Linked DNA regions of Homo sapiens: regions 2, 3, 4, 5, 6 and 7 are each linked to region 1. Evidence: fine-mapped expression QTL. A gene starts in region 1. Each other region holds a variant in brackets. All regions are shown on one strand. Distances are between the middles of the regions. Region 1 holds the start of ACSF3 (acyl-CoA synthetase family member 3). Region 2 overlaps ACSF3 (acyl-CoA synthetase family member 3). Region 3 has its middle 6.3 kb from the start of SLC22A31. Region 4 overlaps ACSF3 (acyl-CoA synthetase family member 3). Region 5 holds the start of LOC124903766. Region 6 holds the start of LOC100287036 (a long non-coding RNA gene). Region 7 holds the start of CDH15 (cadherin 15).

The links.
Region 2: its variant is fine-mapped to the expression of ACSF3 in prefrontal cortex (CommonMind, PIP 0.95).
Region 3: its variant is fine-mapped to the expression of ACSF3 in lung (TOPMed, PIP 0.92).
Region 4: its variant is fine-mapped to the expression of ACSF3 in prefrontal cortex (GTEx, PIP above 0.99).
Region 5: its variant is fine-mapped to the expression of ACSF3 in lymphoblastoid cells (TwinsUK, PIP 0.95).
Region 6: its variant is fine-mapped to the expression of ACSF3 in regulatory T cells (Schmiedel 2018, PIP 0.95).
Region 7: its variant is fine-mapped to the expression of ACSF3 in whole blood (TOPMed, PIP above 0.99).

Annotation. Positions count from the first base shown.
Region 1 is chr16:89,091,870-89,095,932 of GRCh38, forward strand. ACSF3 (acyl-CoA synthetase family member 3) reads left to right here and starts at 1,983. Exons shown (of 11, transcript NM_001243279.3): 1 at 1,983-2,127. RefSeq lists a silencer at 1,747-2,156 and enhancers at 2,577-2,766, 3,986-4,063.
Region 2 is chr16:89,123,619-89,127,681 of GRCh38, forward strand. All of the region lies in intron 7 of ACSF3 (acyl-CoA synthetase family member 3), which reads left to right. Among named protein-coding and RNA genes, the nearest start is that of ACSF3, 32 kb to the left of the region's middle. The variant A/AAGAGAGAG (reference allele first, on the strand shown) is at 2,080.
Region 3 is chr16:89,204,819-89,208,881 of GRCh38, forward strand. No RefSeq gene overlaps it. Among named protein-coding and RNA genes, the nearest start is that of SLC22A31, 6.3 kb to the left of the region's middle. The variant G/A (reference allele first, on the strand shown) is at 2,449.
Region 4 is chr16:89,112,123-89,116,185 of GRCh38, forward strand. ACSF3 (acyl-CoA synthetase family member 3) reads left to right here. Exons shown (of 11, transcript NM_001243279.3): 5 at 1-124; 6 at 2,217-2,365. Among named protein-coding and RNA genes, the nearest start is that of ACSF3, 20 kb to the left of the region's middle. RefSeq lists enhancers at 1,845-3,044, 2,244-2,343 and a silencer at 2,439-2,733. The variant C/T (reference allele first, on the strand shown) is at 2,165.
Region 5 is chr16:89,244,832-89,248,894 of GRCh38, forward strand. It overlaps LOC124903766, which reads left to right and starts at 2,547. Exons shown (of 3, transcript XM_047435040.1): 1 at 2,547-2,631; 2 at 2,766-3,171; 3 at 3,294-4,063. The coding sequence starts at 2,547. The coding sequence ends at 3,828. RefSeq lists a silencer at 2,325-3,074. The variant A/G (reference allele first, on the strand shown) is at 2,433.
Region 6 is chr16:89,316,875-89,320,937 of GRCh38, forward strand. ANKRD11 (ankyrin repeat domain containing 11) reads right to left here. Exons shown (of 13, transcript NM_013275.6): 3 at 59-204. The coding sequence starts at 145. LOC128462377 reads right to left here. Exons shown (of 2, transcript NM_001416403.1): 2 at 172-201. The coding sequence ends at 172. It overlaps LOC100287036 (a long non-coding RNA gene), which reads left to right and starts at 3,578. Exons shown (of 4, transcript NR_168302.1): 1 at 3,578-4,063. RefSeq lists enhancers at 149-740, 741-1,332, 2,594-3,106, 3,051-3,430, 3,107-3,620 and a silencer at 3,951-4,030. The variant G/A (reference allele first, on the strand shown) is at 2,269.
Region 7 is chr16:89,170,832-89,174,894 of GRCh38, forward strand. It overlaps CDH15 (cadherin 15), which reads left to right and starts at 917. Exons shown (of 14, transcript NM_004933.3): 1 at 917-1,042. The coding sequence starts at 1,001. RefSeq lists a silencer at 353-992. The variant C/T (reference allele first, on the strand shown) is at 1,967.

The sequences.
Region 1 (4,063 bases):
CATCTCTCGGTCTTTCTGTTCTATTTCTAGGAGACGTCCTTTAGCCCTTCCCTTAGGGTTTTTACTCAGGCTGTTGTATTCTGACCCCTCCAGCCCCCCTTTATGTTACTGGAACGCTCTTTCTCGGGGCATCTCGCTCTGGACTCATGGGGGCTGTCGCTTCCCTTGTCTCCCTGAGGGTATTAACAGGGGGTGGTTTTGGGGGTCTCTTCACTCTGCACAGCCTGGCTGCCTGCAGTTGTTCTGCTGGTTGTTTCAGCCCACGTCTCTCTGGCTAGAGGCTGTCCTCCAATGTCTGCTAATCCCTGACTGCTCCTGCTTCCCACCTGCCACTATGATGCTGACCAGAGCCGAGGCACAGATGGGACCCCTGCTCATAGGATGACTGGGCCATTTCTCGGAGACTGCACCCTCCCCCCACTGCCACCCTCACAGAGCCATGGCCAAGGACCACGGGAGCTGTCACCCTGTCCCAAGTCCTGTCTCTAGGTGGGTGACGCAGCCTGAGCTCTTCAACTTCCCAGGGATAGAAATTTGCGCACACACGTCCTGGGGCTGAATCCTGATGTTAGACGCCCTCCTTACTCTTCCTACTGCCCTCGTCGGAAACACCATTCAGCCTGCTGAGTCCTGGAAGCAGACAGAATTCTGACACCAGATCAAGCCTGTCCCAGTGGCAGAGGGTTGGACTTGCTTTTTCTGCATGATACCTAGCAGGGTGGCAACCAGAGGCACTAGAAGTTTGGGTTTGTTCTCCCACGCTCTGTGTTACAAACTTCCCCCAGATCCAGCTCCTTCCTCCCAGGAAAACCATCCTCGGGCTCCTGAAGTGCCCTTTCCTGAGCTTTCCAAGGACACAACTGCTGCCCCAGCAATCATCACAAGAGAGGAAGATGGGCATGGAAAATAATACACTTACAAAAAAACTGTGCAAGGTTCTGCAGATAATTTTTTTTTTTTTTTGAGACAGTCTCACTCTGCTGCCCAGGCTGGAGTGCAGTGGCGCAATCTCAGCTCACTGCAGTCGCCACCTCCCAGGCTCAAGAGATTCTCCTGCCTCAGCCTCCCGAGTAACTGGGATTACAGGCACCTGCCACCACTCCCGGCTAATTTTTGTATTTTTAGGAGAGACAGGGTTTCACCATGTTGGTCAGGCTGGTCTTGAACTCCTGACCTCGTGATCTGCCTACCTCGGCCTCCCAAAGTGCTGGGATTACAGGCGTGAGCCATCACACCAGGACGGTTCTGCAGATAATTTGTACTACTGTTTGCCAGTACATGTCTTTGTGTTATTAGTATTCATTTTAGGGGAAAAACCCTCAAATTTCAGCCAACTGGACTTTGTGTTTGGCTTTAAATGTTTTCCGCCACTGTCCATCCAACAGTCTCGCTTCATATTCGTATCCTGGTTCCCAAGTCCCTTCGAGGAGAGATTCTCAAATGCGGTCCGTTTAAAATCACCCAAGAAATACAAAAATTAGACAGGCATGATGGCGGGCGCCTGTAGTCCCAGCTAATTGGGAGGTTGAGGCAGGAGAATCACTTGAACCCGGGAGGCGGAGGTTGCGGTGAGCCGAGATCACACCACTGCACTCTAGTCTGGGCGACAGAGCGAGACTCCATCTCAAAATAATAATAATAATAAGAAAAAGTAACAACAATAATAATAATAATAAAATCACCCAGGAGCTCAGCGTGCAGACCCCCAGCCGCAAAGCCCAGAGAGCCCCTTTTGGGAGGACGGGGCGAGGCCCAGCAATCCGCGTTGGGAGTGGTCCCGCGCGCCGTTCTGATCTGGGCAGCCCTGGGCTAGCGGAGACCACGGCGCCTTGCCTCGGCCACGGCTCACGAGACGCCCGCGGCCCCGACCCCGCCACGACGGGACGGGCGGGACAGGGGAACACGCGCGCCCGGAACCCGCCGCCACGGCGCCGCGCCGGGGGGACGCGCTTGGGCGACGGACGCGCCGCGCCGGGGAAGCTGTTGGGCGCCGGAACTGGTCCGGCCCGACTCACGACCCCGCGGGACCCGGCCGGAACCCGGCCCGACCCCGGCGCGCGCGCGGCGGAGGACGAGGAAGAGTTGTGGCGAGGCAGATCCTGCCCCGTGGCCGCGGCCGTCTCGTAGGTGCGGGCGGCGGGGCCCACGGGACCGCGGCGGGGTCGGCCGGGCGCAGAGCTCTCGGGGGCGCGGGCTCCGGCGCCCGCCCCTGGGTCGCAGCTGGGCTTGAGCCGTGGCCCGTGGCGCGGTCGCTTCCCCGCGAGCCGCCTGGGGCCGGGCGTCGGCCTTCCCGGGACGCCGAGCCTCTCGTGTCCGGTGGGGAGCGGGGCCCCCGCGCGGGGTGCGGGGAGAGAAGCTGTGCGGACGCCGGGCCCGGTGATACCGTCGAGCCGGCGGGGTCCGTGTTCAGGCATCCTCAGAACGAATCGTCTTTGGTTGTGTTTGGAATAAATTCACTTCCATTTCTCATTGGGCTTCAGAAGTCACCCTTGAAGTACTCCCCGTTTTAGTTGTTTGCTGCGTGCACCTTGCTGGGCGCGTGGGGCACAGGTTCACAGCCGGCCTAGCCCCTGAGGGCATGTAGATCTATGAGCAAGCAATGGAGACGTGCGGCCGGCCGTGAAGTATTTGGAAGGTACTGCAGGCAGCCCATTCCCTGGAGAGAGGGAAGGTTTAAAGGGGTGAGGCCCGGTGCAGTCAGGAGTTGATGTTGCTGTCCTGAGTCTAAATTCCACCAGGCAGGCCAGGTGCAGTGGCTCATGCCTGTAATCCCAGCGCTTTGGGCAGCAGAGGCAGGAGGATCACTTGTGGCCAGGAGTTCAAAGCCAGCCTGGGCAACATGGTGAGACCCCTATCTCTACAAAAAAATGTAAAAATTAGCTGGGTGTGGTGGCGTACACCTGCACTTCCAGCTACTGGTTAGGCTGAGGCACGAGGATTTCTTGAGCCCAGGAATCGGAGGCTGCAGTGAGCCATGACAGCACCATTGCACTCCAGCCTAGGTGGCAGAGCAAGACACTGTCTCAATAAATAATAAAACTGAAAAAGAAGAGGTGATATTTGAACTGGGCTTGGAAGAATGATTAGGAATTTGCTAGAAAGGGAACACGTTTAGAGATAGGAACACGAATTGTGTCTGGGGCATAGTTGTTGCTTTCCCATCCTGGGAGGACAGACATTCGTGTTAGGGCCCAAGGCTGAGACCTTGTTGAGGAGGGGGTTCACATGGTGGACCCAGGAGCACGGGTGTTACTACCGGTGGACCCTGGGGACCCTGCGAGCTTTGTAGCGTGAAGCCTGGCTCAGGCTGGTGTCCTCTCCGCAGGTGTTGGAGGACATAAGATGAGGCTTCCCTTGCTCTTGCTCCTTTGGCTCTGAACCATCTCCTCAAGGCAGACAGAAATGGCGGATTAAACTGTGGGCTTGGGATAGTTGTAAGTGTCACCTTTCCAGATGGCATTTTTAAAATAGTATTTTTCTTCCTAAAATGGATATGGGTTTCAAGTGTATTTTTCCTTTTTGGTTTTTTTTATTTGAATGTACTGCTCATGAATGCAATGTGAATGTCTGTTACTTAAAAATGTAATTTTGAAAATAACCCTCCAAACCACAGGTGTGATGCTGAAACGCATCCTGCCCCGCAGGCCGAGCACAGCCCTCCTCTGCCCCACGCTCTCATCGGGGCAGCCGACAGGAGGAAGTGCCGGCATCCACTTCAAACACAAGGTCTGGGGGGGCGGGGGTGTCAGGTGTGGTGGTGAACAGGTCAGGTGTCGTTTTATTCATGTTGAAAGCAGCCCTTCATTTGAATGCGAGTGTCATTCTCATCTAGTAATTTTTGTTGCGAGGCTCCATGGGGAGCACCCTGCTGAGCACGGCGCGGCCGTTTGTCTTCTGCCTGGCCTGTGCCGGGCCATTCGTACATTCTCACGTGAAGCCTGTGAGGCAGGTCTTGTTACTGTGCCATCTTAGCGGTGGGAAGTGAAGGGCTAGGCCAGTGAGGAAATGAGGACAAAGGCAGCAGCCGTTCAAGTCGAAGCCTGTGGTGACTAACTCTGCCATT
Region 2 (4,063 bases), 32 kb after region 1:
TGTGGAGTGACTCATGACTGTTCCTGGGCAGATGATCAGCCAGGCCTTCAGAGCTGAATTAAGAGGCTTGGTGTCATATTTGTCAGGAAACAGAAAGTACCTGCAGAAAGGAATGTGCCCTGTGGGGATGGGAGGACACCTTCCCAGGATCATCCCCGGGGCCAGAGTATCTGGACCCTCCCCAGGTGGCAGCTGGCCTGCCAGGCCCAGGGCTCAGCCTCCTCCATCACCTCGCTGAGGGGCTGGCTCCTACCACTCCCTCACATCCTGTGACATATCACAGGTACCACACACACATGCAGTGCGCGCACGGGTATCACAGATACACGCAGTGTGCACACGGATAGCACACGTAGTACGCATGGGTATCACATGCAGTGCACACACAGGTATCACACGCACGCAGTGTGCACACTGGTATCACACACATGCAGTGCATGAACGGGTATCACACACATGCCTAGTGTGCGCATGGGTATCACACACATGCCTAGTGTGCGCATGGGTATCACACACATGCAGTGTCCACACAAGTATCACACACACATACACATTGTGTGTGCACAGCTGTTACACACATAAATACAGAAAAAAAGACCTGATGGAAACCCCAGAAGTCAATATGGCTGAGCTCCAGGCCGGACTCCCTGACGATGTCATAGGACGAGGGGGCGCGTGTGCACACTGCATATATGTGTGTGTGAGACCCGTTTGCACACTACATGTATGTGTGTGATACCCCTGTGCACACTGCATGTGTGTGATACCTGTGTGTGCACTGCTCATGTGTGTGTTACCCGTGCGTGCACTGTGCGTATGTGTGTGATACCCGTGCGTACTCTGCGCATGTGTGATACCCGTGCACACACTGAGTGTGTGTTACCTGTGCACATGCTGCATGTATGTGTGTGTGTTACCCATCTGCTCACTGTATGTATGTGTGTGAGATACCCATGCGCACACTGTGTGTGTGATACCCATGCATGCACTGCGTGTATGTGTGTGATACCTGTGCACATACCATGTGTATGTGATAACTGTGCACGCACTGCGTGTGTCACATATGCACACACTGCATGTGTGTGTGATACCCATGTGCGCACTGCATATACGTGTGTGTTACCTGTGTGCAACACTGCATGTGTATGTGACACCTGTGCGCACACTGCATGTGTGTGTGATATTTGTTGAAAAGACTACCCTTTCTGCATTGCATTGCCATTGCCACTTTGCCAAAGATTAATTGGACATATTTGAGAGGGTCTACATACAGGTTATCTGTTCTGTTCCCTTGATCTATGTTTCCATTCCTCTACCGACACCACATTATCTTGACTGTTGTGGTTTTATAGTAGGTCTTAACAATTGTAGTGTGATTTCACCAGCTTTATTCTTTCTCAGAGTTGTTTTGGTGCACATATTAATTTTAGAATTAGCTTGTCTAGCCGGGCCTGGTGGCTCACACCTGTAATCCCAACACTTTGGGAGGCCAAGGTGGGCAGATCACCTGAGGTCAGGAGTTCAAGACCAGCCTGACCAAGATGATGAAACCCGTCTCTACTAAAAATACAAAAATTAGCCAGGCATGGTAGTGGGTGCCTGTAATCCCAGCTACTTGGGAGGCTGAGGCAAGAGAATCACTTGAAACCAGAAGGCGGAGTTTGCACTGAGCCGAGATCACGCCACTGCACTCCAGCCTGGGCAACAAGAGCAAAACTCTGTCTCAAAAAAAAAAAAAAAAGAATTAGCTTGTCTATATCTACAAAAAGTTCTTTTGAGGTCTTGAATGGAAAGCCAGGTGTAGTGGCTCATGCCTGTATTCCCAGCATTTTGGGAGGCCAAGGCAGGCTAATCAACTTGAGACCAGGAGCTCAAGACCAGCCTGGCCAACATGGTAAAACCCTGTCTCTACTGAAAATACAGTTAGCCAGGTGTGGTGGCACACGCCTGTAATCCCAGCTACTCGGGAGGCTGAGTCACAAGAATTGTTTGAGCCTGGGAGGTGGAGGTTGAAGTGAGCCAAGACTGCACCACTGCACTCCAGCCTGGGCAACAGAGTGAGACTGCCTCAAAAAAAAA[A/AAGAGAGAG]AGAGAGAGAGAGAGAGAGAGATGTTGATTGGAATTTAGCCATTCTGATCGGGGAGATCACTTGGGGGAGAATTAACAATTACTATGCTGAGTCTTCCAATCCATGAACATGGTATGTCTCTCCATTTACTTAGATCCGTGAACACGGTGTGTCTCTCCGTTTACTTAGATCCGTGAACACAGTGTGTCTCTCCGTTTACTTAGATCCGTGAACCTGGTGTGTCTCTCCATTTACGTAGATCCGTGAACACGGTATGTCTCTCCATTTACTTAGATCCGCAAACACGGTATATCTCTCCATTTACTTAGATCCGTGAACACGGTATGTTTCTCCATTTACATAGATCTGTGAACACGGTCTGTCTCTCCATTTACTTAGATCAGTGAACATGGTGTGTCTCTCCATTTAGATATACTTTGGTTTCTTCTGTGTTGTATTCAGCATATAGATGCTGTACTTGTGTTAAATTTATAAGTAAATGTTTCTTCTTTTCTTTATTCCTCCTATTTCTTCTCCTCCTTTTCCTCTCCTTTTTAAACTATTGTAAGTATGGCAGGTGGGTATGGGGGGAGAGTTGTTTGTTTTTTTGAGACAGAATCTTGTCCTTTCGCCCAGGCTGGAGTGTAGTGGTACGATCTCAGCTCACTGCAACCTCTACTTCCTGGGTCTAAGTGATTCTCATGCCTCAGCCTCCCCAGTAGCTGGGATTACAGATGTGTGCCACCACACCTGGCTGATTGTTGTATTTTTAATAGAGGCAGGGTTTCACCATGTTGGCCAGGCTGGTCTCAAACTCCTGACCTCAAGTGATCTGCCCGCCTCGGCCTCCCAAGATGCTGAGATTACAGGCATGAGCCTCTGCACACAGTCACGTTTTTGTTGCTGTTGTTAGTTTTCAACTGTTCATTGCTAGTAGGTAGAAATAGAATTGATTTTTGTGTGTTGGCCTCAAATACTTTAGTTGTTACCTTGCTAAATTAACTTACTAGTTTTAGGAGATTTTAATAGACTTCTTGGGAATTTCTACAAATACAATCATGTTTTCTGCAAATACAAACAGTTTTATTTCTTCCTTTCCAACCTGTATGACCAAAGCCCTGACTAGGACTTCCAATACGATACTGAACAGAAGCAGTCCGAGTGGACCTTCTTATTTCTGATCTTAGGGAAAGGATTCAGTCTTTCAGCAAGTGTGTTAGTTACTGGCTTTTTGCAGATTCCATTCTATCTATAATGTGCTTAGACTTTTTATCACTAAATGTATGTTGAATATTTTCAAAAAGCTTTTCGGTATTGATGGACTTTTCTTTATTAGGCTGTTAATATGGTAGATTACATTGAACCAAGCTTTCATTCCCAGGACAAACCCCACTTGGTCCTGGTGGGTCATTTTTTTATATATAGTACTGGATTTGATTTGCTAGCATATTGCTGAGTATTTTTGCATCTGTATTCATAAGAAATTTTGGTCTGTAGTTTCCCATTTTTGTACTTTCTTTGGGTTGTGTTTGAGGGTGATGCTGGCCTCATTAAATGAGTTGGGAAGTGTTCTCTCCTCTTTTTTTTTCTGGAAGAGATTGTGTAGAATTGGTATTATTTCTTCTTTCAATGATTGGTGGAATTCACCAATGAAATCATCTGGGCCTAGAGGTTTTCTTTTCTATTATTATTATTTTGTGTGTGGGGGATAAGGTCTCGTTCTGTCACGCAGGCTGGAGTGCAGTGGTGCAATCATAGCTCACTGGAGCCTTGAACTCCTGGGCTCAAGTGATCCTGCGTCAGCCTCCCAAGTAGCTGGGACCACAGGCATGTGCCAACATGCCCAGCTAATTTTTTATTTTTATTTTTGTAGAGTTGGGGGTCTCACTATATTGCCCAGGCTGATCTTGAACTCCTGGCCTCAAGTGATTCTCCCTCCTCGCCTCCCAAAGTGCTAGGGTTACAGGTGTGAGCCACTGTGCCCTACCAACGTTTCTTTTTTGA
Region 3 (4,063 bases), 110 kb after region 1:
GCACCCAACCCAATTACTGAAGATTTTAGGTGAGTTTTTTCTTTTCTTTTTTCTTTTTCTCTTGGAGACAGATTCTCGCTCTGTCACCCAGGCTGGAGTACAGCAGTGTGATCCTGGCTCACTGCAACCTCTGCCTCCCGGGTTCAAACGATTCTCCTGCCTCAGCCTGCCGAGTATCTGGGACTACAGGCACGTGCCACCAAGCACAGTTAATTTTTTGTATGTTGGTAGAGACGAGGTTTCACTGTGTTGCCCAAGCTGGTCTCAAACTCCTGAGCTCAGACAATCCACCCGCCTCAGCCTCCCAAAGTGCTAGGATTACAGGCATGAACCACTGTGCCCGGCCTGAAGTAAGTTTTGAAATCGGGAACTGTGAGTCCTCCAGCTTTGTCCCACGTAGCTGGGACTACAGGTGCCCACCACCACGCCCAGCTAATTTTTTTGTATTTTCAGTAGAGACGGGGTTTCACCGTGTTAGCCAGGATGGTCTCGATCTCCTGACCTTGTGATCCGCCCAGCTTGGCCTCCCAAAGTGCTGGGATTACAGGAGTGAGCCACCGCGCCCAGCCCAGCTTTGTTCTTTTTAAAAATTATTTTGACTATTTGGGGTTCCACAAGGTTCCATATGAATTTTTTTTTTTTTTTTTTTTTTTTTGAGACGGAGCCTCGCTCAGTTGCCCAGACTGGAATGCAATGGCGCGATCTCGGCTCACTGCAAGCTCCGCCTCCTGGGTTCACGCCATTCTCCTGCCTCAGCCTCCCGAGTAGCTGGGACTATAGGAGCCCGCCACTACGCCCAGCTAATTTTCTTGTAGTTTTAGTAGAGACGGGGTTTGACCGTGTTAGCCAGGATGGTCTTGATCTCCTGACCTCGTGATCCGCCCGCCTCGGCCTCCCACAGTGCTGGGATTACAGGCGGGAGCCACCGCGCCTGGCCCCCACAGTGCTGGGATTACAGGCGTGAGCCACCGCGCGCGGCCTATGTGAGTTTTTAAATGAATTTTTCTGTAACAACAATGTCAGTGGGACTTTGATACGAATTCCCTATCAAAATGTTTTGATAGAAGAATTAATACTGTTTTGAATTAATCAAAATTGATTGCACTGAATCTGCAGATTTATATGGGCAGTGTTGACATTTTTAACAATATTAATTCTTCTAATCCATGAACATGGGATGTGTTTTCATTTGTTTATGCTTTCTTTAATTTTTTGTAGATTTTTATTGCACAATTCTTTTACCTCCTTGGTTAAGTTAGTTATTAAGTATTTTATTATTTTATTATTTTATTATTTTTCTTTGAGATGGAGTCTCGCTCTGTCACCCAGGCTGGAGTGCAGTGGCCGCCATCTCGGCTCACAGCAACCTCCGCCTTCCAGGTTCAAGTGATTCTCCTGCCTCAGCCTCCCGAGTAGCTGGGACTACAGGCACCTGCCACCAAACCCGGCTAATTTTTTGTATTTTTAGTAGAGACGGAGTTTCCCTGTGTTAGCCAGGATGGTCTTGATCTCCTGACCTCATGATCCATCCACCTCGGCAGTATTTTATTCTTTTACTTTTATTTTTTCAGATAGAGTCTTGCTCCGTCACCCAGGCTGGAGTACAGTGGCACCATCTTGGCTCACTGCAACCTCTGCCTCCCGGGTTCAAGCAATTCTCCTGCCTCAACCTCCCAACTAGCTGAGATTACAGGCGCCTGCCACCATACCTGGCTAATTTTTTTGTATTCGTAGTAGAGATGGGGTTTCAACATGTTGGCCAGGCTGGTTTTGAACTCCTGACCTCAAGTGACCCGCCTGCCTTGGCCTTCCAAAGTGTTGGGATTACAGGCGTGAGCCATCACACTTGGCCAAGATGCTATTGTGAGTAGAATTATTTCCGTAAATGCTTTTTTAGATTGTTAATTGATAGTATATAGAAATGCACTGGTTTTGCATTTTGACATTGTATCCTGCTACTTTGCTGAATTCATTTATTAGTTCGAACACATTCTGTCTGTGTGTGTAATCTTCAAGGATTTCCCGTATATAAGATCATATCCTCTGCGAACAGATGATTTTACTTCTTGCTTTCCAATTTGGGTGGCTTTTATTGTATTTTCTTCCCGAATTGCTCTGGTCAGAACTTCCAGTACTATGCTGAGTCCAAGTGGTGAAAGCCAGCAACCTTGCCTCGTTTCTTATCCTAAAGGAAAAGTTTATTCTTTCACCATTCTGTAAGACGGTTGCTTTGGGTTTTTCATATATGACTTTTTTTTTTTTTTTTTTTTCTTTTCGAGACAGAGTCTCGCTCTGTCGCCCAGGCTGGAGTGCCATGGCGCGATCTTGGCTCACTGCAATCTCAGCCTGCCAGGTTCAAACGATTCTCCTGCTTCAGCCTCCCGAGTAGCTGGGACTACAAGTGCCTACCACCATGCTCAGCTAATCTTTTGTATTTTTAGTAGAGAT[G/A]GGGTTTCACCGTGTTAGCCAGGATGGTCTCAATCTCCTGACCTCATGATCAGCCCACCTCGGCCTCCCAAAGTGCTAGGATTACAGGCATGAGCCACCACGTCCGGCCTATTTTGTTGGTTTTTATGTTAATGTTCGTAAGGGATATTAGTCTCTAGTTTTCTTATATCTCTGACAGGCTTTGGTGTCAGAGTAATGCAAGCTTCATGGAAAGACTTAAGAAGTATTTCGTCCTCTTAAGTGTTTTGGAAGTGTTTGAGAATTTTTAACATTAAATCATCTTTAAACATGCGGTAGAAGTCACTAGTGAAGGCATCAGGTCTAGAGCTTTTCTTTTTTTTTTTGAGACGCAGCTTCACTCTGTCGCCCAGGCTGGAGTGCAGTGGCATGATCTCAGCTCACTTCAACCTCTGCCTCCCAGGTTCAAGCAGTTCTCCTGCCTCAGCTTCCCGAGTAGCTGGGACTATAGACGTGTGCCACCATGCCTAACTAATTTTCTTGTATTTTTAGTAGAAATGGGGTTTCACCATGTTGGCCAGGCTGGCTTTGAACTCCTGACCTCGCATGATCCGCCCGTCTCGGCCTCCCCCAGTGCTGGGATCACAGGTGTGGGCACGGTGCCCACCAGGGCTTTTCTTTATCAGAATTTTGACTAGTGATTCTACTTCCATACTACTTACAGGTCCACTCAGATTTCTAACTTCTTCCTGATTTAGTCTTGGTATGTTTAGCGTGTCTGGGAATGTGTTCATTTCATCTGGGTTATACAATTTGTGTACGACTTTTTTCATAACACTCTCTTGCGGTCTTTTTATTTCTGTAGAATCAGTGGTAATGTCCCCACTTGGATTTCTACTATTGGTAACTTGAGTGTTCTCTTTTTTCTTAGTCCATTTAGCAAAAAGTTTGTCAATTTTGTTGATCTTTGCAAAAAATCAACTTTTGGTTTCATCCTCTATTTTTCATTTCTGTTATTTTTGTTCTAATCTTTTATTATTTTCTTATTTCTACTAGCTTTGGGTTTAGGTTGTTCCTTTCTGGTTGTTTAAGTTGATTTGAGATATTTCTGTTTTTGTTTTTTTTTGTTTTGTCTTGAGATGGAGTCTCGCTCTGTCACCCAGGCTGGAGTGCAGTGGCGTGATCTCGGCTCACTGTAACCTCTGCCTCCTGGGTTCAAGTGATTCTCTTGCCTCAGCCTCCCAAGTAGCTGGGATTACAGGCGTGCTCCACCACGCCCAGCTAATTTTCGTATTTTTAGTAGAGATGGGGTTTTACCATCTTGGCCAGGCTGGTCTTGAACTCCTGACCTTGTGATCTGCCCACCTCGGCCTCCTGAAGTGCTGGGATTACAGGCGTGAGCCACCGAACACCCAGGCAAGCAAATCTCTTGAACCTGGGAGGCGGAGGCTGCAGTGAGCCAAGATCACGCCAGTACACTCCAAACTGGGCAACAGTGCGAGACTTGGTCTCAAAAAATAAAATAAAGAGGTTACTTATTATTTATTTATTTATTTATTTATTTATTTATTTATTTATTTATTTATTTATTTTTGAGATGGAGTCTCGCTCTGTCGCCAGGCTGGAGTGCGGTGGCACTATCTCAGCTCACTGCAAG
Region 4 (4,063 bases), 20 kb after region 1:
CGCGGATCAATGTCTTTATGGCAGTGCCTACAATATACACCAAGCTGATGGAGTACTACGACAGGCATTTTACCCAGCCGCACGCCCAGGATTTCTTGCGTGCAGTTTGTGAAGAAAAAATTAGGTAAGTGAAAAGAGCCCACTTTCTCGTTCAGAAAGTCTTAAAGATCAACAGATACGACTTATTTCTAATAAATCACTCCTACTAAGTTCTGGGAAGCAGTGCTTTCCATTTCCTTTCAATGTTCCCTCTCTCTCTACCCGTCTCCGTCTCTACCTCTCTAACTGTCTCTCTCTCTCTCTACCCGTCTGTATGTATATCTGTAATCTCTTCCACGTCGATAGCTGCCTGGATTCTGTATCGCTCTCTCTGTCACACTCTGTCTCTCTATCTCTCTCTGTCTCTCTTTGTCTCTCTCTCTCCATCTCTCCATCTATCTGTCTTCTCTGTCTCTCTTGTCAGACTCTCCATCTCTGTCTTCTCTCTGTCTCTCTCCATCGCTCTTCATCTGTCTCTCCGTCTTCTCTTTCTCTATCTCTCCTGTCTCTCCATCTGTCTCTATCTCTCCATCTGTCTTTGTCTCCGTCTGTCTGTCTGCTCTCTCTCCTGTCCGTCTCTCTCTCTCTCTGTCATGGCGTCTGAAGGACAAGGGTGAGGACAGTGAGCTGACCCGCTTGCTCCTGCTTCATCTGCCCACATGTCCCACGGCGCCTGCCTCTCCTATGCAGTCTCTCTGCCTTCGTGGGCAGCCCTGTGAGGCCTCCTGCCTGGGGCACGTTCTGCTGCTTTTCCTCTCAGCCCCGCTCCTCCCCTCCCAGCTCCCTGGATAAACCCCTCCCTCCCAGGACAAGCTGGTCTTTTGGGCCACCCAGGGGCGTGTTTGCTCTGCACTCTCCCATGAACCTGCAGGCGTGGGAACGTTTCTTTTCCCTCGTGGCTGTTGAGGTGTGGTTCACTAACTGGAAACGCACACGTGTGGCTCAGTGAGTCTTCACACGCATCACAGGCCCGCACCTCCAGCAGAGTCGTGGGTGGGGTATTTTTTCTTTTTGTGAGAGGGAGGGGTGGCGTGGAGGGTGCACTGCAGGAACTGAAGGCTCCACTGCCATCCAGTTTCCAGTGGGATGTGTGTGTCTGTGGCTGCCGCGCGCTCCTCCCAGTCCCCAGGAAGTGCACAGGGAAGCGGCACCTTTGTTCCTGGAGAGAATTCCGGGTTGTCCAAGGCACATGTCTGAACCGCTTCGCTCTCTTTGCCGTTCCCTTGCCCCTTTTCTGTGAGGCCACCGGAGCCCATGGTTTTGCTGCTGCTACTGCTGGGATACCCTGGGGCTGGGCAGGCCCCAAGCTGAGCAGGGTGAGCACAACGTTTTACCAAATCTAAGGAACCAAGGGCAAGAACGAGGTCAGTGAAGGAGAGGATCAGGTGATTTCTGGGGTGACAGAGGCAATGAGACCTCGGCCATCTGGATCTCCCAGCGGGGGTCCTGTCAGTGGTGCCTCCTCGTAAAGCAGGGGCAGCAGCAGGGACCACTCCGCTCAGACCGCAAACAAAAGCGCCTTCCCTACTGCCCGTGAGGCTGCGGGAAATGCTGTGTGAGAGCGCGGGGACTCGGAGTTCTCAGGGCCCGTGTTCTCCTGCCAAGCCTGAGCTGACCCTGTGGGCCAAGATGGCTGCAGTTCTGCGGGTGGTTCTGAGCCCCTTGGGTGTGCCCGGCCCCACCCCTTGGGTGCCGCGGCCATTCACCCATGTCCGCGTTCTGCTGCAGAGCCTGCAAGCTGAGCCGGCTGTAGTCCCCGGATGTGCCTGGCCGCAGCCTGCAGCGCCGTGGCTGTTCACCCGTGATCAGCTCCGTGGTCGGCAGCTGCACGGTCACTGCTGTTCTTGAGCGTGGTTGTGAACAGCGCAGGAACTTTGCAGGGGACACCGCGGACCCTAAGCACATTGTTTACCCTCATTAGCTGTTGGACCTGCTTCCTTCTAAAATACACCCAACAGATCGTTTTCAAAAAACAAAGTCACGCCGTAGCGCAGACTGCAGCGTTGGTCCCGGGTGTCGCACAGTGGTGCTGTACCCACGGCCTGGGGCTCCTGCACTCGTGAAGGAGCTGCCACTTTTGCAAGCAAGGGCCGCCTCCTGAGGGGCTAAACCTGCCACCTTTGCA[C/T]GCGAGAGCCACGTCCCAAGGGGCTAAACCTGCCTTTGGTTGTGCCGCGTAGGCTGATGGTCTCAGGCTCAGCTGCCCTGCCCCTCCCAGTGCTGGAGAAGTGGAAGAACATCACGGGCCACACCCTGCTGGAGCGGTATGGCATGACCGAGATCGGCATGGCTCTGTCCGGGCCCCTGACCACTGCCGTGCGCCTGCCAGGTACGAGCACTTCCCACAGCTGCGTTCCTCTTCCACTGTGCTCTGAGCCCCCCAAGGTGGGCCAGTCTCGAACCACCCACATTCGGACTGAAGGGCGGCATGGAGGATGCTCCCCCGTGGGACAGGCCACTCGGCCAGGAGAGCACTCAGGATGCACTGCGACCTGTCCCCTCTGGGTAGATCAGCCTTCTCCCAAGTCTCAGTCGGGTGGATGGGGGAGGTGTCTGTGCTGGCCCCTGGCTGTATGACTGGGGAGACAATGGGAAGAACAGCAATGCCTGGAATGCAGGCGTCAGTGCATGTCTCAGAGGAAGGCGGGGGGCCATGCTGTTGGCTCCAGACCACATCAGCAGTGGTGGCAGCCTCCGTCTGTCTGGAGTCCGGGTGCCACACAGCGCCAGCAGCAGTGCCAGGAGAGGTGGGTGTGGTGGGCAGGGTGGGATGAGTCAAGCACCTGTCTTCCTTCTCTAGATGTGGGCTCCTGATACCGGGCCCCTCTTGTCCAGCCTTCCCTAACACATCCCATTCTGACTTTCATCTGACCCAACCATTTGAGCCCTGGGTCCTCCGCTGGGACTTCTGGGAACAGAGCCCACAGCTGGGGGGCCACCCTGCTGCTTTCTGCGCAGCCCTTCCAGTCTGTCTAGAGTAGAAGAGAGATCTCAGTGCAGACTTAAAGTGAGACCATCCCGCACATCTGTCTGTGCAGCTGCTTACCTGCAGACCCAGTAAAAATTCACCCCTCTGGCGTGCAGCTCTGTGTGTCTTAAGAAACATCATCACAGTCAAAATAGAGAAGGGTTCCTCGCCTCAGAAACTCCCTTCCTAGTGCTCAGCACCTCCTCCACCCCCGAGGCCTGGCCCCTTGTTCCTGTTTCTCTTCTTGTGGTTTTGCTTTTTCTGGGAGGCCACGTGGCTAAATCCTGCAGGACGTGGCCTCTGAGCCTGTCTGCTTCCGCCCGGCTTCCGCCCACAGTCAACTGCCTGTGCTGTGTGCGTCAGAGCCCGCGCCTTTCCCTGCTGAGTGGCATCCGTGGTGTGGGTGCGGCACCGCTTGTGACCCTGTTTTAAGCAATGACACGTGAGATGTTATCAACATTTGTGTGCAGGTTTCTGTGCGAACGTGGTTTTTTATTTCACCTGGGCAGATACCTAGGAGAGAGATTGCTGTGTTGTCTGAAGCTTTCAAGCTGTTCTCCAGAGCGGCTACACCATCCCCTTCCCCCTGCAATGGGTGGGAGGTCACGAGCACCTGCTGCTCCAGCGGGCGGTGGTGGTGTCTCGTTGAGTTCATGATTCTCTCATGATGGGTGGCGTTGAGCACCTCTTCCTGTTCGTGTCATTCCGTTTTCAACTGGGGCCTTTGTTTTCTTGAGTTTTGAGAGCTTTTAAAATTCGGGACCCAAGTGTCAGCTGTGCGATTTTAAATATCATCTCCCAGCTTGTGGTTTGTCTTCCCATTCACCTAACAGCGTCTTTAAAATCAGGAGTTTTAGGTTTTGGCCCGGTTTATCAATTTGTTTTGTGAATTGTCTGATGTCATATCTAATAAATCCTTGCGTAGCCCAAAGTCACAGAGAATAGTTTCAGCTCTTACGTTTGGGACCATGATCCATTTTGAGTTAATGTTTGTACATAGTGCGAGATACGGACCACAGTTCTTTTTTAGTGTGTGAATGTCTAACTTTTTAGCACTGT
Region 5 (4,063 bases), 150 kb after region 1:
GATACCCACGTCCTCGGTGGTGTCATAGACACAGCCCACACACCACCCAGCTAAGGGCCATAGCCATGACGCAGGCCTAAGAAATGAACCCCAGCACCTGCGGCCGCACCCTCCCTGTCCTGCCCATTTCAAGAGGGACTTGGGCAGCGGCTGGAGAACTGTGCTCAGTGGCATTTCCCGGCGAGGTGCTTGACCCTTGGCCTCAGCTCTGCGCCTCCCCATGCCCTTTCCAGTTCCTGGCTCTTTTTATCCAGCTTAATCTACTGCTGGGGGCCGTGCTATCCCTGAGTTTTTACTTTAAAATCTAACGTTTTGAACATATGTGTGTATGTATCTTTATAATAGGATGATTTACATTCCTTTGGGTATATACCCAGTAATGGGATTGCTGGGTCAGATGGCACTTCTGATTCTAAATCTTTAAGTAATCGCCACACTGTCTGCCACTATGGTTGAACTAATTTACACTCCCACCAACAGTGTAAAAGTGTTCCTTTTTCTCCACAACCTTGCCAGCCTATGTTGTTACTTTGCTTCTTTTTTTTTTTTCTTTTGTTTTGAGACAGTCTCACTCTGTCGCCAGGCTGGAGTGCAGTGATGCGATCTCGGCTCACTGCAACCTCTGCTTCCCGGGTTCAAGCGATTCTCCCGCCTCAGCCTCCCAAGGAGCTGGGATTACTGGCATGCGCCACCATGCCCGGCTAATTTTTTTGTGTTTTTGATAGAGACGGGGTTTCACCATGTTGGCCAGGTTGGTCTTGAGCCCCTGACCTCAAGTGATCTGCCCTCTTCTGCCTCCCAAAGTGCTGGGATTACAGGCGTGAGCCACTGCGCCCAGCCCATCTGTTGTTTCTTGACTTTTTTTTTTTTTTTTTTGAGACGGAGTCTTGGCTCTGTCGCCCAGGCTGGAGTGCATGATGCCATCTTGGATCACTGCAGCCTCAGCCTCCCAGGTTCAAGCAATTCTACTGCTTCAGTGGGGTCCCGAGTAGCTGGAATTTCAGGCACCTGCCACCACGCCCGGCTAACTTTTGTATTTTTAGTAGAGATGGGGTTTCGCCATGTTGGCCAGGCTGGTCTCAAACTCCTGACCTCAGGTGATCCACCCGCCTTGGCTTCCCAAAGTGCTAGGATTACAGGCATGAGCCACCATGCCTGGCCTGTTTCTTGGCATTTGAAAAATTGCCATTCTGACTGGCGTGAGATGGTATCTCACTGTGGATTTGATTTGCATTTCTCTAATGATCAGTGATGTTGAACTTTTTTTCATAGGTTTATTGGCTGCATGTATGTCTTCTTTTGAGGAGTGTCTGTTCACGTCCTTTGCCCACTTAAAAAATTTTTTTTTGTAAATTTGTAAGTTCCTTGTAGATTCTGGATATTAGACCTTTTTCAGATGTATAGACTGCACAAATTTTCTCCCATTCTGTAGGTCTCTGGTTAGCTCTGATGATAGTTTCTTTTGCTGTGCAAAAGTTTAATTAGATCTTTAGTTTAATGAGATCCTATTGGTCATTTTTTGCTTTTGTTGCAATTGCTTTTTGTGATTTGATCATTGCAGCACTATTCACAATAGCAAAGACATGGAATTGACCCCAGGGTCCATCATGATAGACTGGATAAAGAAAATGTGTTACATGTACATATACACCATGGAATACTATGCAGCCATAAAAAAGAAGCGAGATCATGTCCTTTGCAGGCACATGGGTGGAGCTGCAAGCCATTATCCTCAGCAAACTAACGCAGGAACAGGAAAGTAAACACGGCATGTTCTCACTTATAAGTGGGAGCTGAACAACATGAGCACATGGACACAGGGAGGGGAACAAAGCACACTCGGGCCTGTTGGGGGAGGGCGGGGGCAGGAGGGCATTAAGAAAAATAGCTAATGCATGTCCGGCTTCATACCTACGTGACGGGTTGATAGGTGCAGCAAACCACCATGGCACACGTTTACCTATGCAACAAGCCTGCACATCCTGCACGTGTACCCCAGATATTAAAAAAAATAAATACATCCGACGTTTCGTGAAAGCTGACTGGGCATTAGTGGATCCAAGCACCAAACAGGACGGCAGGTGGAGACGTGGGACAGAGGCGGGTGGAGAGAGAAGCCGGCGGGATCCAAGGCCCCAGGGCAGGCCCTGGCAGCGATGTGGCAGCCCCTCTGCAGTTTCCACGCTGGTAGTCGTGAAGTAAATTCTAGGCCCTGCTCCCCAACCGGCGCGGGCCGCCCTCGCCTTCAGCTCCAATGCTGCTGCGCCCCAGGCCGCCCCGCTCCTGGCAGGCCCCAGCCTCTGACTCAGCCCCCCGCCTAGCCCCTGAGAGCAGCCTCTCCGCGGGACTGGCCTGTGCGCGCGCGTCTGCGGCACCGTCGGACCAGGGGCCGCCCCCGAGCGGGGAGCCCAGGAGGACGGCCAGGTGGCCTG[A/G]GGCAGAGGCGCCAGGGAGGATGGAGAAGGGACACCCAGGGCCTAGGCGGGGTGGGGGCAGGGAGGGCGGCGGGACAGCAAGGAAGTGGGTGCACCTGGGTGACCCAGCTGCGCATGAGCGGGCAGGGGCTCGGGGCGCGCGGACTCCAGGCGCTGGACTGCGGCGTGGAGCAGCGCTGGGGAAACCGCGCCGGGTTCAGCGAGGATTGCTGGGCGGGGCGCGCGAGGAGCGAAGCTGGCCGGGGGCGGGGCCTGAGTCGTGTCGGGGCGGGGCCTAGACCCGGGCTGGCCGTGGTGGGCGGGGCCTGAGTCGTGAAGGGGCGGGCCTTGCAGGGGCGGGGCCTCGAGGGGCGGAGCTTGCGGTGACCAGCGAGGGGGCGGGGCTTAGAGCCACTAAGAAGCGGGACCCAGTGAGGGCTAAACGTGGGGCGCCGGGGGCGTGGCGCGGGGCGCAGGTGCACGCAGGTTGGCCGCGGGCGCGCGGGGTCCGGCGGGAGTCCCGGGGTGGTCCCCGCGTGGGGCCGGGGGCGTCCGCGCGGGCGGGGCGAGGTCGGGGAGGGCAGCTGCCCGCCCTCCTCGGCACTGGGAGCTTTCGGCTGGTACTGCGGGAGGAGCTCCCGGGTGACCCGCGGGTTCTGAAACCGCCGCTCGGGAGCTCGGGGCCTGCGCGGCGTCTACGGGGCGAGCGAGGGAGAACTGACGCCTTTCGCTCGGATCCTTCTCCCCTTCCGAGAACCAGGTAGGTCGCGTTTATTTTCAAGTCCGACTGTTTTCGCGGTAACATTTGTGAGAAACATCACGGTGGATCCTGTGGGTCGCTGAGTTTTCTGACTCCCGGTTTGTCTTATTTTGCTTTGTCAGTGGGCTCTGCGCTCGCGTTAACAATTCGAATGGGCACGTTTCTGAGTTTAAGAACGCTGTTCGCTTCCTCACACTTAGATTGAGGTGGAACTCACGTCACATAAACCGGGTCGCAAGGCTCAGCTCAGCGGGGCCCCCCCACAGTGTTGCGGGACCAGCACCTTCTCGAGCTCCGGAACAGCTTCTACCCGCGCAGAGCCCGGCCCGTCGGCGGCCGCTCTCCGCGCCCCTCCCGGGCCCTGCAGCCCCCGCCCTGCTCCGCGGAGCAGCCTGTTCTGACCTCCGTTCCATGGAGCCCTACGTGCTGTGGCTTCTGTGTTCCGGCGCCTTTCGCTTAGAATCGCGTCTTAAAGGTTCGTCCGCGGTGGAGCGGGGATCAGGCCCGTGTTCCTTTTCAGGAGTGAATAATATTCCCTGGTATGGAGACTGCGCTGAGATAGGACCTGGGCCACCCCCTCTGATTATTTCCCGCCCACCCCTTCACTGGCGCCAGCCCCACGGAGACCTCGCAGGTGCCGTGAGAAAGTGGAGATGAGCAGAGTCTGGACGCATGCGCGGGGCCGGGAGGTGCCGGCCGCAGCCTGCGCCGTCTCCTAATGCGGAAATCTGCACCCAGGGCGGAACTCGCCGGTGTCTTCCGCGCGCGCACTGCACGTGTCGGCATCCTTTCTAGTGCGCCTGCGCAGCCAGCACCGCCTGCACCTGCGCTGACGCTCGCTGACAGCAGTACCCTCCTGGGAAGCCACGCAGGACCCGTCTTCGGGAGCCCG
Region 6 (4,063 bases), 230 kb after region 1:
CCACCTCATCCCCATCTGGGTGCGGTGAGCATGCAGGGCTGGGAGGGGGCAGCATTACCTTTTTCCCAGTCTGCTTCTCCACCATGTCGCTGCTGAGGGGAAGCTCTTCCTGCTGTGGTGCTTTAGGGCACCCACCCTTGGGCATCGTCCTGCTCCTCACCCGATCTTCATTTACACGGCCGGCGCTTCATCATCAACCGTCTGCTTCAAAAGAGAAGACACACAATTCACTGAATTCAGAGGCAGCTCAAAACTCATCCACTCTCACACCGCACTCAACAGACTCAGTAACTAGTCAAGGCAGGCAGCTGCTCTGATCAGGGCTGGGGCCCGGGCCAGGCCCAGGAAGGGACTTCTCAGGATACGCCTCCCATAAAGGGGTCACCAGCAACAGGAATGGCAGCTTTGAGCAGGAAGGAGAACAGAGAAGGGTCAAGCACTTTGTAGTGGCAGAAAGGGACGCATGGCCTAGGGTGTGGCTGTGTTCTGGGTGGCAGTCAGCAGCACCTGGATCCTGGGTCCCACCTGGTACAGGCTACACCCAAAACGGTCAGGCACCACAAGGCAGTCCCTTCCCCGCATTACAGGCAAGGTCACAACACGCAGCGCAGTACCCCAGCCCTCAGGTCTGGCAGGTCATGTCCACAGCCCCAGCCTCACGCCCCACTCACCACCTGGGAAGGAGCTCCTGTCCCCACCAGGCCTGTGCTTTTTGCACACCCAGTTCCCTAACTTGGTAGGCAAGGGGTGTCTCTGAGCGAGTCCCAGCAGCTCCGAGGTCCCAACTCCACGCCCATGGAAGCAGACGCCCCCTCGGGCCTCAGGCTCCAGCTCCTGGGTTTCCCAGGAAATCCGAGGACACATACTGTATTAATTGTATATTATTTTTATTTATTAATCATGTTTTATTTTAGGAAATTTTGCCATCTTAACAAGTTTCTGGCCAGGGAGAGACTGCCCCTCTCTCAGGGCTGGCAAATTCCTAGATAGCCAAGGGCTCCCATGCAACCCAATCACCTTCTTACCCAAGTTCACGCCCAGGCCAAGCCCTGCCTGAAACCAGCGCAGAGCCAGGTAAAGGAAACTAGAAAGTGTCCCTACAGCACAAAGCCTGCAAGAACTTTCCGAAGCAGCCACTCCCGAACTATTTGCTCTGCCCCGTCCCTCTCTTTCTGCAGGAAACCCAACAGGCAGTTGGGGGAGGCCTTCCCCGAGCCCCTGCTTCCGACTCCCACCCCCGTGGTGTGAGGCTGCCCCTCTGCGACACACGGTGCGAGCGCACTTCTTCCTTCCCAGCCTCGTCCTGGTCTCTTCTGTGGCGATGCCAACTTCCCCACGCCACGCCTGGCATGGACACTCTCGGAGCATGGGCCTCCTCCCTGCCTGTGGGCCTTCTAGGTTTGTTCACCATCACAGCCAGGCCTCCCGGGTGCACTCACGAGAGGAATGGGGGACACACCTACACACCCACACCCAAAGCCACTGTCCCCCCATCATGTCCTCGCCGCACCGTCAGTTAGAAAACATTTCATACAAATGGAACTGTGTGCACGTCTCTGCCCTTTCCGCCACAGCAGCACCTCTGTGCGCGACCATGCCGGGAGAAGCAGCTTCTGCAACTCGCTCCCCTGCATTTACCCATCTCGCTCATGCACGAAGTATGGCTTTTGAAACACGATGTGCAGACCCATCTGTGAGTGGCAGCTCCACTGTGAGCCTCTCCCACCTCCACCCCGTCAGCTAAAGGATACGTTGCATGCCACCTGCCCCTGGACGCAGGCTTGGCTGAGACCACAAGATGCTTCTCCTCCAACACCATCTCATGACCTGCTTTGTCTTTCTAAAATAAATGATAAAATCCCACCAACTGCTGTCTTGGTATTTAACTGGTACAAGAACACAGGTGAAGTTATTCTGGAGAGAGGGACAGGTCGGGTCAACGTATTCACTGCCTGACACCTCCACCCGCGGTGCAGGTGAGCAGGTGTTTCCATCCACCATCCCTGATGCCTGAGGCCAGACATATTTTCTCTCTCTACCTGAACCAATGAATTTTACATTCTCTTCCAATTTTCCACCACAAAACCGGAATGTCTCAGCCTGGAGAAAGGGCATCTCAGCACCTGACTCGGAAGGCTGTTCAAGCTCATGGCTGTCTAGAAACTCAGTGGTAATGTTTACAAGTTTAAGGATTATCTGGAATTAACATTTTAAAAAATCCAGACTGTCTGCTCTCAGGACGGAAAAACGGGGCCTTCACCATGTAGA[G/A]TCCACCGTCCTGATCCCAGATGTGAGTCTGTGGCCCACGGACACACTCAACAGCTCTGGCGTGGTCAGGGCGCAGACCCCACGGCCTCCGGACGGTGTCTGGGCCCCGACAGTGCGGGGCTTATCACTTCACTCCTGAGACACCTGATTCTCTTCATGTCCCTAGCTTGGTGCTTTGCCCAGGCACCTTCCCCAATGGACCAGGGATCTGGGAGTCCACTCAGGAGGTGGAGGAAGTGGGTCGCACCCACCAGGCAAAATACTTTTCACGGCCTGCATCACAGCGAACACTCCGGGGACTCGGGAGTGTTGTCCCAGGTGTACGCTGTGTTTTCTGGAGACGTTTCTCCAGCCACCTGCACGATGACAGCTAAGACCATCCAGGCCGTGGCCCTTCCAGGACCCTCGTGTCCGCCTGGCCTTGGCTACAACATGTTACCGATGGCAGCGATGTGCTCGAGGCCCTGCAACCCCAGCCCCCGCCTCTCCATGAACCACCACCCTCATCACAGTCATGGAGATGGTGACAGCTGAGATGTCCTGCTGAAGCATCTGCTGGATGTGGATGAAGCTGGTTTGGATGTAGCTGCCATCTAGCCCAGGCTACACCTCCCAGGACCCGCCTGCAGGCACCAGGCGTGCAGCACGCGGCCCACTCTAGAGTCTTTTTCAATGAGAGACCAGATGAGGACAGAGGCTCCAGTTGCTTTTGTTCTGTTCCAAGACTTGCCATCCCAGTCCTCCCAGAAGCTGCCCTGGTGATGCCTCTGGCACCTTTGGCCCCCACACTGCCCTGTGTTCCCTCCACCAGGCTCAGGGCTGGTCAGCCTCACCCCTTGCCGTGAAATGGCAGAGCCAGCCGAGGGCCGAGGAACCGTTACTCAGCCGTGTCAGTGACTTCTACCAGGGGCTGCACGGCACTCAGGAGTCAGGCCAACAGGCTCTGCTGACTCATGGGTGTTGTCTGAGGGTGGGGGCTGTGATGATGTCCCCAGGCCTCCCTGGCAGGGCTGTCACATAAAACAGTCCTTGAAGCTGGGAGTCCCCTCTTTAGACAGTTCCGCAGCCCCTGTGCCTTCTCATCACGATGCTGCACAGCCGACCACACAACAGAAGGCACCGGGTCTCACTCCCGGGGGAGACTCTTCCCTGGAAGGTGACTTGGCTGTCCCTGCCTAGACTCATTTTAAGTGCAGCCTAAATCTCCCTCATTTCCAAGTTATCAGGCAAAGTCTATTTTAAACTCACGACCCTTGAATCAGCAGGAAACTGAAACACGCCTCAGGCCACTGGGGCTGACTCACGCCCTGTGCTGAGCGGCAAGGCACAGCCGCGGGAAGGTAAACGCAGAGCCGAGGGGCCGGCCAGCACCTGGCCCTGACCGCCCCCAGGCCACGCATTCCTTGTTACTTCACCTCCTGGCGGATGGCAACCGTCCCAGCTTCGTGGACTGTCAGGGTCACCGAGAGTCCAGGGTGGTGGGAGTCCCCCACACGAGCCACTGGCACACTCCCTGAAGCAGAAGCCACGGCGCCAAAGCTGTGGGCTCAGGGAACTTGCCCATTACCTGGCAGCCCCGCATCTGTGCCAAAATAAGACACAACTCAGCCCAGCGGAGTGGACAGTGTCTGCGGCCAGCTCTGGGATCCAGGGCCAGCTGATGCTGGGAACAGCCGTCCTTGCCCTGTGCCTCTCCACACTGCGAGAGCCCCTGCAGCCCAGAGGGGCTCCACCTCCCCTGCAATGGGGCTCAAAAGACAATCCTTCTACGGGGCTGGCAGGACAGACGTGACAG
Region 7 (4,063 bases), 79 kb after region 1:
ATGATGAGAAGGAGTTCTGTAGGAAGGAAGGTGCTCCAGGCAGGGGGCCTCGGGGAACAAGGGGATGCTGGAGGAGGTGCGTGGACTGGGGGAATTGGGGGTGTCCTACGAGCCACGCTGGTATCAGAGGCGTGTGAACCAGAGCAGTTCCATACTGAATAAGAGCTGGGCAAAATGAGGTCGCGAGGAGGTGCGTGGAAGGCGGGCCTAGCGTTCAGTGGGATGCGGGGAGGCGCAGGAGACGCAGCCAGAGAGGCGAGGGGCCCAAGGAAGTGCTCAAGAGGTGTCCCCCGGCAGGGACTACAATGCAGATTCCCTGGAGCAGGGGCGAGCCGGGCCCAAGGAGCAGGAAATGAAGAAGCCAGGAATCCCAGCTGGTCCCTGACCCGGACGCACCCACCCTGCCTTCCCCACAGCCTGGCCTCTGGCTCTGCTCCCAACGCAGCAAGCCGGGGTATCTCCGACCTAGCCCTGGCCCTGCCCGCCGGAACCCCGCAAAAGCTATCACTCAGCCCTCGGCCCCGCCCCGGCCCCACCCCGGCCCCACCCCGCACTCTCACAAGGTGTCACTCAGCCCTCGGCCCCGCCCCGCCCGCCCCATCCTCCTCTGGCTCCGCCCCACCAGCCTCGTGCGGTCACCGCCCCGCCGGCGCACCTGCGCTGTCACTCAGCCCTCGGCCCCGGCCCCGCCCCGCCTGCCCCACTCGCACACGGGCTATCACTCAGCCTGCGCCCCGCCCTAGCTCGCCAGAGGCTCCGCCCCACCCGCCTGCCAACACGCTGTCACTCAGCCTTAGCCCTGCCCAGGCCGGCCCTCGGCCCGTCAGAGGCCTCCTTCGTGCTGTCACTCAGCCCTTGCCCCGCCCCCTCCCCGCCCCCCTCACACGTGCTGTCTCTGTCTCTGGCCCTGGCCCGCCCCGCGCACTTGCGCTGTCACTCAGCCTGGACGCGCTTCTTCGGGTCGCGGGTGCACTCCGGCCCGGCTCCCGCCTCGGCCCCGATGGACGCCGCGTTCCTCCTCGTCCTCGGGCTGTTGGCCCAGGTAAGGCATCGGCACCTGCGGGGGTCCCCGCTGCCTCCCTCGACGCTGCGGGACAGTGTCTTCAACTGCAGCCGCACAGGTCTCCCCCAGAACCACTGGCCCTGGTCGCCTTTGGGGGCCTGTGAGCGGAGTGGCTCCGGGTGGGTCCCTGGGCTGGGGGCAGCACCCCAGGGGTTGTGGGGAGTGAGTGTAACCAAACACTCCATCTGGTGGAATCACCCCCAGGACTGCAGAGTGCTGCTGGGGTCAGGGACCCCAGGCAGGGGCCACCCAGGTAGCCGTGCCCTCTCTTTGGAGGAACCGCTGCCGGGGTCTGGGGGTTGCCAGTCTTGAGTGGAGCAGAGAGAGGGGGGAGCGGCAGGAGTGCCCCTCTCTGGGGGGCTGGGGGCCAGGTTTCTATAGGGACTCCCTGCGGTGGGCACAGGACCCCTGGCTAGTCTTGGGTTTTGTCCAAACCCCCCACCCCAAGTTCCTGGCCAGCAGGGGTGGCTGCAGGCCCTGCCCCCAGGAACTCACCCTCACGGCTACTTCTCGATTGGGAGGGCCCAGCCCGAGCCAGGTCGCAACACACGGCCTTGCAGAGTGGCGTGTGGCAGCCCTGGGGGCTCTGTTCCTGGGCTTCACCTGGGACCCTGCCGCAGCTGCCTGGGGTGATCAGGCCTGGGGGCCCAGCCCCCAGAGGCTGCTGGACTCTGCCCCTAAAAATCTTGTCTGGACTGCTGGCACCGTGGTCTCTCCAACGTGGGAGCAAGCCAGAGTGGAAGGAAGCCCAGGCCTCAGCCCCCCACACCCGACATGGGTACTGCCTAGCTGGAGCCACGTCTCCTCACACCCTAGGGGGACCTAGACATGGAGGATGTGGCCTCAGTGGCTTCAGCCCCCAGGGACTGGGCTGGGCTGGGGCATGGCCGGCTGTGGTTGGGA[C/T]GTCACTGGGTACAAGAGGGCAGCCTCTCTCTGGCCAATTCGAGAGAGAATGCACATAAAGGGCTTAGCGGTGCTCACAGTATTCATTGCTCTTGTGGTCCTGGGGTGGTCAGGGAGTGCTGGACACAGTGAGTAAGGGAAGCCACTCCTTTCCCAGCCCCCACTGAAGGGGCTTCCTGAGTCCCCTCATTCCCACAGGCCTCCCAGCTCCAGCTGGCTCCAATTTCAGCCCCTGGCAGCTGACCAGGCGCCTGGCCAGCCAGACCCTCCAGCAGCTGCCCCTGAGGGCACCACGGCTCCTGCCACCCCCGACTCCCCCATCTGGAGACAGTGGTGGGGGGAGACAGTGGCTCAGCATGCGTGCTCACCCCCCGGCCCTCCACCCCTCAGCCCTCTGCCGGGGAGCGCAGGCTGGGGGGCTCCATGCCTCCAGGGCCCTTCCCCACCTGCTCTGGGGACAGGGTTTCTTCCCTGGCACCCCAACCCAGGGCATGGTGGTGGGGAGGCTGGCGCCTGTGAAAACATTCCTCCAGACCTCTTCCTTTGGATTTGGGAGTGTCTGCCTTTCAAAAGGCCCCAGGGGGCTCTGTGGCAGGTGGGGAGGCAGGCAGGACCTCTCCCTCCTCAGAAGCCTTCCCTCTCACTGTCCCTTCTTTTCTCGCCCAGGGCTGGGGGACAATAACCCCCTCCCCCGACAGCTGGAGGCTGGGGGAGGTGGTGGAGGTGGGGGCCAGATGGCAAGGGGACTATCGCCAAGGCTCAAATTCACTCCACTGTGAGGCAAAATATGTCAGTGTCAGGACCCTGCCTGCCCCTCCCCCAGCAGCTCAGCTTTCAGGACTGTGAGCTCTCCTGGGCAGCCTTGGGGTCCTGGGCCGCCTCCTGGTGAGCCCCCAGGCAGGCAGCGTGGGCCCATCAGGGCCTTCTACAAGTGAGGGGTTGCTCCCCTGCTCGGGCCACCTCTGATTGCTGAGCTCACTCAGCCCCACCCGGAGGGTGTCTTCAGAACTGGCCCCTCTCAGCCCTGCTGCACCTACACCATCCCTAGTTGCTGGTTCTACACCTGGGACCCCACCCCAGCTGGGAGGCGGCTGAGGTCTGGGGCAGCACACTTGACTCACAGAGAACCCCAGCCTGCTGGGAAGGTCCCCACTTCTGCATCTGGGTTTTGGGAGCCCCTTGGTCTCTGGGAGACAGTCAGCAGCACCCTGGGGGCCAGGCAGGGGCTCTTAGCTCGGGTGACTGTGACCAAGGCCAAGAAGGGAAGTGGCTCCCAGGCCACTGTTCTTCCCACAGTGGAAGGACAGCCCCAGACACCGTGCTTTGGAGGGGACAGCTGCCTCCATGCCTCTTCTTCCACATCCCTTCTCTGAAGCCCGCAGCAGCTAGAGAGGGTGGGGCCCAGGGAAGATGCTCCAGCCGCTCTGGGCCAGGCCAACAGCTGGGGCCATTCCTGGCATGCCTGGCCATCCAGGAACGGGGTGGCCCCAGATTCCAGCCTGGGGGAGGGGTTGAAGCCTGAGAAGCTTGAGGGGCCTTCGCACTCTCTTCCCAGGCAAACCCACCCACACGCCACCAAGCGTGTTCCTAGAATCTCGTAGCACCCTTCCTTGGAAAACCGGGGGAGCAGGAGTGCAAGGTCGGCCCCAGAACCGCTCCTCGTTCCCGTCTCGCAGTGGTGTTCGTAAACCCCATTCCCACCTCGCAGTGGTGTTTGTAGACTGCAGCAAGCGCCCAGTGTGTGCAGAGCTTTCTTACACAGCAGCCCCTTGGGGTTGAGTGTCAGGCTAGGAGCAGACCTCAAGAGAGGCGTTAAGTCCCAGGAGCTTGGCTGCAGGGCGGTGGCCCCAGACGTCTCAAGGGCTTCGAGGTGGTTCCCTCCAGGCTCTTGGCTAAGGGTCCAGTCGAGGATGAGCTTGGGGGTGTCATTGGGGACCCCCTGTGGGGAAGCAGGTCACTAATGTCCATGGGTCTTGCCTGGCTTGGGTGGGGGACAGAGAGGAGTGGACGAGTGTCCACAAAATCCACCTCCCAGGGTGCTTGCGTCCCCTACCCCAGGTGCAGGGCTGTGGGCTGGCTGCGTTGATGTGGCTTTGT